2 linked regions of the Homo sapiens genome follow. The protein of the gene in region 1 interacts with the protein of each later gene in a pairwise test. Each region holds a gene or a part of one and is shown on either strand. Other genes may lie near its edges.

The links.
Region 2: the proteins of KIF19 (region 1) and HTR2B interact in a two-hybrid assay, tested with the Homo sapiens proteins (one large-scale study listed by BioGRID and IntAct).

Annotation. Positions count from the first base shown.
Region 1 is NC_000017.11:74,339,507-74,343,325, forward strand, and holds part of KIF19 (kinesin-like protein KIF19), read left to right. Parts: exon of another isoform or gene 1-638; intron 639-821; exon of another isoform or gene 822-1,036; intron 1,037-1,676; exon of another isoform or gene 1,677-1,836; intron 1,837-2,369; coding exon 2,370-2,480; intron 2,481-3,123; coding exon 3,124-3,211; intron 3,212-3,517; coding exon 3,518-3,654; intron 3,655-3,819. UniProt on the Homo sapiens protein: Plus end-directed microtubule-dependent motor protein that regulates the length of motile cilia by mediating depolymerization of microtubules at ciliary tips.
Region 2 is NC_000002.12:231,118,347-231,122,165, reverse strand, and holds part of HTR2B (5-hydroxytryptamine receptor 2B), read left to right. Parts: intron 1-3,819. UniProt on the Homo sapiens protein: G-protein coupled receptor for 5-hydroxytryptamine (serotonin). Also functions as a receptor for various ergot alkaloid derivatives and psychoactive substances.

The sequences.
Region 1 (3,819 bases):
CGCCCCCTTCCCTCCCACTGAAAGAGGGGACCAATGAGACACCCATTCCCTACCTCCCTCGCCCCCTTCCCTCCCACTGAAAGAGGGGACGCATGAGATGCCCATGCTGGCTGAGGCTGCCGTCATGCACTCCGTTCAGCACCCACGGCCCCAGGGAGCATGCTCCCTTCTCATGAAGAGCACGGTGGTGGCTCATTTTCCCCTGGCTATCACAAGCCAGGACCCCAGGGAGCCCAGGCGTCCCCAGGCGCAGAGCAGCATTTAGAGGCGCCAGCTGCCTCTCAGGGGGCACCTCCGCGGTGCAGTGGTTGGGGGTGGTGCATGAGGACAGGGACTATGGTCCAAAGGGACCTCAGGCAGGTGCAGGGCCTGTGGAATCCCAGTGACCTTCTCCACGGTGAGGGTGGAGTTGTGGGTCTCGACTTGATGGCAGAGTCATGGGTGCGGGGAACAGGTGGCCACTCTCAGTCTCCACCCCTGCCCTCTTAACAGCCCGTTGAACAAAGACTGTTGAGCTCTTGGCACATGCCCAGCGCTGTGCCCAAGCACATTACACGTTGTTCCAGGGTCTTCCCAGCGCTGCAGGTGGATCATGCTGCTGTCCCATCTGACAGAGGAGGAGATGGAGGCTCAAGCAGGTTATACCAGGCCCGACCACCAATAAGAGGTCACAGGGCCCTCAGTGCCTACCCTGATTCTCCTTTGCTGCCCCTGCTCCTCTCATCCTAAATCCTCCAAACTCAAGCCCTCCCACGCATCTTTGAATGTCTCCCGTCATTTCCATGAATCTGGCATTGTCTCTATCCCCTCCCATACCCTAGACTAGGGCCCCCAGCAAGGACGCAGCCTCCTTCCTCTGCATCTCTGCATAGAGCTCGGGACAAGGCTGAGTACACACCAAGTGCACAGGGGCAGAGGCAGGGGCAGAGTGGAGCAGGCCCTGAGATAGTTCTAGAAAATGGGCCCCTCGGTTACCTTTGGAGGAAGGGAAGAACCCGGCCAGGACCCTTCTGTGTCTCAACACACGTGCCAGCAGGTATGCGCGCGCGTACACACACACACACACACTGCTGCCACTCCTACCCTGCAGGGAGGGGAGCCCCAGCTGGGATTGGCCCACCCATGGCCTGTCCTGGCTGCCAGCCCAAGCCCCTCTGCCTCCCTTTCCACCCTTTCCACTCCCGGCTCAGGCTCAAAGCTGCAAAGGGCCACTGGAGCAGTTCCCTCACAGCCCTCTCAGCTGCGAGTGGAGATCCCCAAGCCCAGCGTGCTGACCTCATCCCTCACCCAGCTGCCTGTGGCTCTTTGCTCTGTCCCAGGCTCTGCCCTGGAGGGGTGAGGCGGAGCAGGCAGGGCTGTAGCGAGGTGGATAGGAGTCAGTGGACTTTGAACTCAGAGCCTGGTTGGCACCCTGGGTCTCCCCTTGCTGATGTGTGACGACCTGGGGGGTGTGACTCCTTTGGACCCTGATTTCCTCATCTGTAAGGTGGGAGTCATAGCTGGCCTTAGCCTGGGGTCATGGCTGGGGTTAAAAGAGACTGTGTGAGGCCGGGTGTGGTGGCTCATGCCTATAATCCCAGCATTTTGGGAGGCCGAGGCTGGCGGGTCACTTGAGGTCAGGAGTTTGAGACCAGCCTGGCCAACATGGAGAAACCCCATCTCTACTAAAAATACAGGTGGCACACGCCTGTAGTCCCAGGTACGCTGGAGGCTGTGGCAGGAGAATCACTGAACCCAGGAGGTGGAGGTTGCAGTGAGCCGAGATCACACCACTGCACTCCAGCCTGGGCAACGAGCAAGACTCCGTCTCAAAAATAAATAAATAAATAAAAGAGACTGTATGTGTGGGTGCTTGCAACAGGTCCTGACACAAAATGAGCCCTGACAGATGCTGCCCGTTCTTCTGTTGCACCTCTCTGGCAGAGGCAGCATGGGGGGTGTTGAAGTGAGGGGCAGGCCCCCAGGGTCTGGGCTCGTGGTAGCCTGGGCATCACCTGTGTGTGCTCTGCTCCCCTGGGGCTGTACTGGCCTTGCAGAGGCAATTGCTCGTTGTCAGGAAGGTGTCCCCTTTGGGCATCCAAGGGCAGATGATGGCGAGCCTGACCCGACATGGGAAAGCTGAAGAGGACAGGAATGGGCTCTGGCTCCGAGACCTACCTCCAGTGGGACCTGGGCCCTGGACTCCGGCCTCTGGCCCCTCCCATCTCTTGCCCACATCCTGAGGCGACGAGGGCTAGATTCAGAGCCCAGAAGGGCTTTGTTAACTCTGATCGACAAAGGGGTTAACTTTGTTAACCTTCCTGAGGGTTGACCTCATCAGGGCCCGGGGTTCCCAGGTGACCGTGGGCCTCCCTCTGGGGACCTTGCAGATGGTGGTTCTCATGGACCCAATGGAGGATCCCGACGACATCCTGCGGGCGCATCGCTCCCGGGAGAAGTCCTACCTGTTCGACGTGGCCTTTGACTTCACCGCCACCCAGGTGAGGGAGGGCCTGGGCTGGAGACACGCAGGAGCCCCTCCCCCACCCTTAGCCCCACTCAGGAGGGGCCCTCCAGGGCCCCTGCCTTTGAACCTCAGCCTCCACTCCACCTGCTCACCCTCTGTTCCTTGAGCCTTCCCCATTCAGGAAGGTTCTCATGCACACAAGGCACACACACCCGGCCTCCTGCAAGGATGCACTGGGGTTGGCACTCAGACACCACCCTACACGGTACAACTCGCTTGGCTCCTACTGAGCTGGAAAAGGAGCTTGAAGGCCATCTGGTGTGGGGAGGACAGGGGCAGAGGGTGGGTTCAGCGAAGCTGACACCCTCCTCGAGGACCCCCATCTCGCCCATCTGTGGGATGCTCCCAGGAACAGATGTGATGCATCCTCAGGGCGGGGGGCCAGGAGCCAGCTGCGCAGGAAGGCGTCTCAGGTGTCCTGGGCTCTCTTTCAGCCTGACGTCCCCCACTGTGAGTGTAAGCAGAGACATCCCCTCCCCCACCCCCCACCCCCACTTATCTTGGGGCTGGGGCTCCAGGGACAGAAACCTCTCCTATCAGAGGTCAGGAAGAGCCAGTGGGTGCCTGTGCTGTGCCCCGCCTGTGTCCCGGCCCCTGACAGGCTTCCTTCCTCGCAGGAGATGGTGTATCAGGCCACCACCAAGAGCCTCATCGAGGGCGTCATCTCAGGCTACAATGCCACTGTCTTTGCCTATGGCCCCACAGGTAAGGGGAATGCCCAGACTGTGGGCGAGGACCGCAATGCCCCTGTAATCCCCGTCACCCTCCAACTAGTCTGACCCCAGCTGGAGCAGGAATCCAGGATGTGGTCGCTCCACATCTCACCCAGGGCCCTCCAGCCCCAGAGGCCCCAACCCGAGCCGGGGCATCATCCTCCCCACTCCCCACCACCTCCCTGGCCCTCTGAGAGGGCCCAGCCTTGAGGACAAACCCCGGTTTCCAGGAGTGCCTGCCCAGCAAGGCCTCCCTCCCAGCCCCACCCCGGTCACCCTCCACCTTGTTCTGCCCCAGGCTGTGGGAAAACCTACACCATGCTGGGCACAGACCAGGAGCCTGGCATCTATGTTCAGACCCTCAACGACCTCTTCCGTGCCATCGAGGAGACCAGCAATGACATGGAGTATGAGGTCTCCATGTCCTACCTGGAGGTGAGTCCCCCAGCCTAGGCTCAGATGGGGCTGGCCTCCCTCCCTGGGGCTGGTCACTGTGCAGCTTCCCGGGGCGCTCATCACTGCTGCCCTCCTGCATGCCTACTGTGAGCTCCACTTTACAAACATCGCAGGCTCATCAGAGAGGTTAGGCAACTAGGCCAA
Region 2 (3,819 bases), on another chromosome or scaffold:
AGACTTTCTAATAATTAACAGTCTTTCTATCTCCCTGTTTTATAAATTTGTAATCTTTTAAATAATCTAATGCTGCATGAAACCATGAAAAATAATTAAGAAATCTTACTATAATAGAGAACATAACCCTAATTCTGAATAAAGCTTAAAAGAAAGTATTATGTAGAAATATATATGCATATTTGATAAATACTGTACAGGCATATGATTCTAGCTCTCATCTCCATGTGCATAATAGTAGCTTAAGATGTAAAATCATACTCTTCAAACTGTGCTTTGCTAGGCACACAGAAAATGTCAAAATGCTTATTTCAGACTACCATAAAATTTAATACGTCATTCAATACATGATATTGAAAGAATTATGCAGAAGTGAATTTTAGCTTTAAAATCTTTGAGTCCATAAATATCAAACATCTATTATATGCAAAGTACCATGGTAGATACTTAAATTATCAGCTAAATAGTTAAGGAATCTTAAAAGGCAAAGTACCATAGAATTAAAGTGAGCTAACAAACAAAATACAAAAACAGGTAACAAAGATTTACCTGTTTAATAGATTCCATGTATTCTATAGAAAAATAGGTATCCAGCAGCTGAAAACTTTAAGTGTATATTTAAAATGCTGGTACCCAACATATCCTTAGCAATACAAGTTAGCAGAAAACCCAACATATGTTAACATAAAATATGTGAAATGTCTTCATATTTATGTCTTAAATAATTGATAGACATTTTAATATTATTTCATTCTTCCAAATGTTTATTAACTTTAAATTTATTTTTATTTATTTATTTTAATAGAGATGGAGTCTGGCAATGTTGCCTGGGCTGGCCTCAAACTCCTGGGTTCAAGTGATCCTCTGCCTTCAGCCTCTTAAGTAGCTAGGATTACAGGCACATTCCACCATGCCTGGCTCATGTTTGTTAATTTCTAATTACAAAATAAAATATTTTATAGCCCCAAACACTTTTACTATCAGAAATAAGTTGTATAGTGGGGTTTGTAGATTTTTAAAAAATGAACAAATCTGTGAACTACTATCTAATACATTATTGCATTATTTAAAGCATAATTCAATTTCTATGAAAAAATGTAGGAAAAAAACACATGTTGCCCTCTAACAAACTTCAAAGGATGAATTCATAAATTGGGAACTGCATGTATTACAAATGGAAACCTGACTTCAAATACCAAGATATTTTTATAACCTTTTGCAAGTTAATAAACACAAAGATTTTTCTAAACTAATGCATTTATAAGAACTTCTGATAACTTTAAAAGGCAGAATTAGACTTTACACTCTTATTGTAGTGTTAATCTTTAGGACTTCTAACGTTTGTACAAACAAGCGTTCTTGGTTCTATGATAAAAGATTAACTATCACTATGAGCAATAATTTTAGCTATCGCAGGGGAATTCAATGAAAGTAACACAAAAACTATACTAGCTCGTAGTCTAATAAAATGAAATTTTAAAAATAAGAGCAGTAAAATATAAAAGTGGACCTTCTGTCCTTATACTGAGAGATATTTTATTCAACCACTGATCTGTATAATATTTAACAATATACGGTTTGAATTCATATTTTCCCAAGATTATGACAACTCAGGCACAACATTGTCTTTCAAATGAGTTGTGCTAGGTCAATTTTTCTGCCACTTCTTCCTATCTGGGAGCACTGGACTTGATCTTTACAGTTGTAGTTTTTTATTGTCTTGTCCATAATTCCTAAAATCCATGATCACAAATCAACAGCTTATAACACAAGGCTTGAAAATACCTACGTTAGAAATACTTGAGCAAGAAAACAACACCTTATGCTGATATAAAAAAGACAGGATGTTCACCATTTAAGAGCTTCTCTGAATCTTTGTTTCATTTTATAAGTGATTTAAAAAGTAACAGGGGAGGCTGGGCACGGTGGCTCATGCCTGTAACCCCAGCACTTTAGGAGGCTGAAACGGATGGATCACCTGAGGTCAGGAGTTCGAGACCAGCCTGGCCAAGATGGCGAAACCCTGTCCCTACTAAAAATACAAAAATTAGCTGGGCATGGTGGTACGCGCCTGTAGTCCCAGCTACTCGGGAGACTGAGGCAGGAGAATAGCTTGAACCCGGAAGACAGAGTTGCAGTGAGCCGAGATGGTGCCACTGCACTCCAGCCTGGGTGACGGGGTGAGGCTCTGTCTCAGGGAAAAAAAAAAAAAAAAGTAACACGGGAAGATATGGCATCTGGCCATCCATTGGGTGTTATTGGTTTATTTATAAGTTTTTTTTTTTTTTTTTTTTTTGAGACGGAGTCTCGTTCTGTTGCCCAGACTGCAGGGCAGTGGCATGATCTCAGTTCACTGCAACCTCCACCCACAGGTTCAAACGATTCTCCTGCCTCAGCCTCCCGAGTAGCTGGGACTACAGGCGCAGGCCACCACACCTGGCTAAGTTTTGTATTTTTAGTAGAGATGGGGTTTTGCCACTTTGGCCAGGCTGGTCTTGAACTCCTGACCTCAGGTGATCCACCTGCCTCGGCCTCCCAAAGTGTTGGGATTACAGACATGAGCCACCAAACCTGGCTATAACTTAAGTTTCAATTGATGCCTCATGATCTATAAGTTCAAACAGTATCCGTGGTATAGCTGAAAGAGTATATAAAATGGCTGAAAGATGGCTGTTTGAAGCAAGACATCCCAGGGTCTGAATCCTGGTTCTCCCGTGTTGGATCAGGCAAGTCACTTATTATTTCAGAGTTCAATCACTTATTATTTCAGAGCTCAATCACCTTGTCAAGCAGGGCCCAGCATCTTATAAGCACTAATAGTAACTGGTAGAGTACTGCATGCAAATTAAATATGATTTAGTTGAGATGCAAGTCTAATCAGAGATGAAACAAATGTATAGCAGTAAGAGAAAAATGGCAGTTATTCATTTATGCAGTAAAATGTTAGCCTACCCAATTCTGAAATGGAGGAGAAAAGCAATGAATTAAAGGCACTTCTTTTTGTAAAGTGGAAATTTTAAAAACCAGGAAAAAATTCTGTAAGCATTAAAATGCTTAAAACATTTAAAACACTATCATATTAGACACTGAACCCCAGGATAACTCATATGCTCAAATGTAGTGAAAAAAGTAAAAAACAAAACAGAAACTTTTAAACAATAATTTGAACTGAACTATGTCTTTCTTTTCTGGAAGATAAAGACAGAAGCATTAGAATTTCTGAGATAAATGTATATTTGAAAATTATGTTCTTTTTGGACATAAGAAGTATTTATGATTTGTCCTGCTGCAATAAGTTCATGAACTGAGTACCTCTGTAAACTATAGGAACAGCCCACTTGGAATGCCTTTAAAAATAGTCTTTTACATCCTCCAAAGGGAAACATTTTATGTCCCAGATTTATGGACTGATGCTAATTATTTTCCGGACAAATAGTGTAACCTGACTTCCCAAACTAAAAAGCTGCCCAAAGGTTAAGCAGGTTTCAGATAAAATAAGTCTGCCTCATCAAGATACGGGGTTTCTAGTAAAACTCCTCAGGTTTTTGTACTAATTCAAAAGAAAGCAAAAACAAACAAAAAAATACCCAAACCAACAAAAAACCCAGGCATGCAATGCATACAGGTTATTTTCCTGTACCGTATATAAAATAAACAGCAGTTAAAATTCAACGTTAGTAAAAAACATACTTTTATGACAAATTCAATTGAAAGTTAAACAGAGTTAACTGTTCTCAGCCCATCCTCCCTCACCCCCGGAAAGTACAGCTTAAAGTTTTAAGCTGAATCAGATGCATGCACTTTTGCTACAGCAGGTAG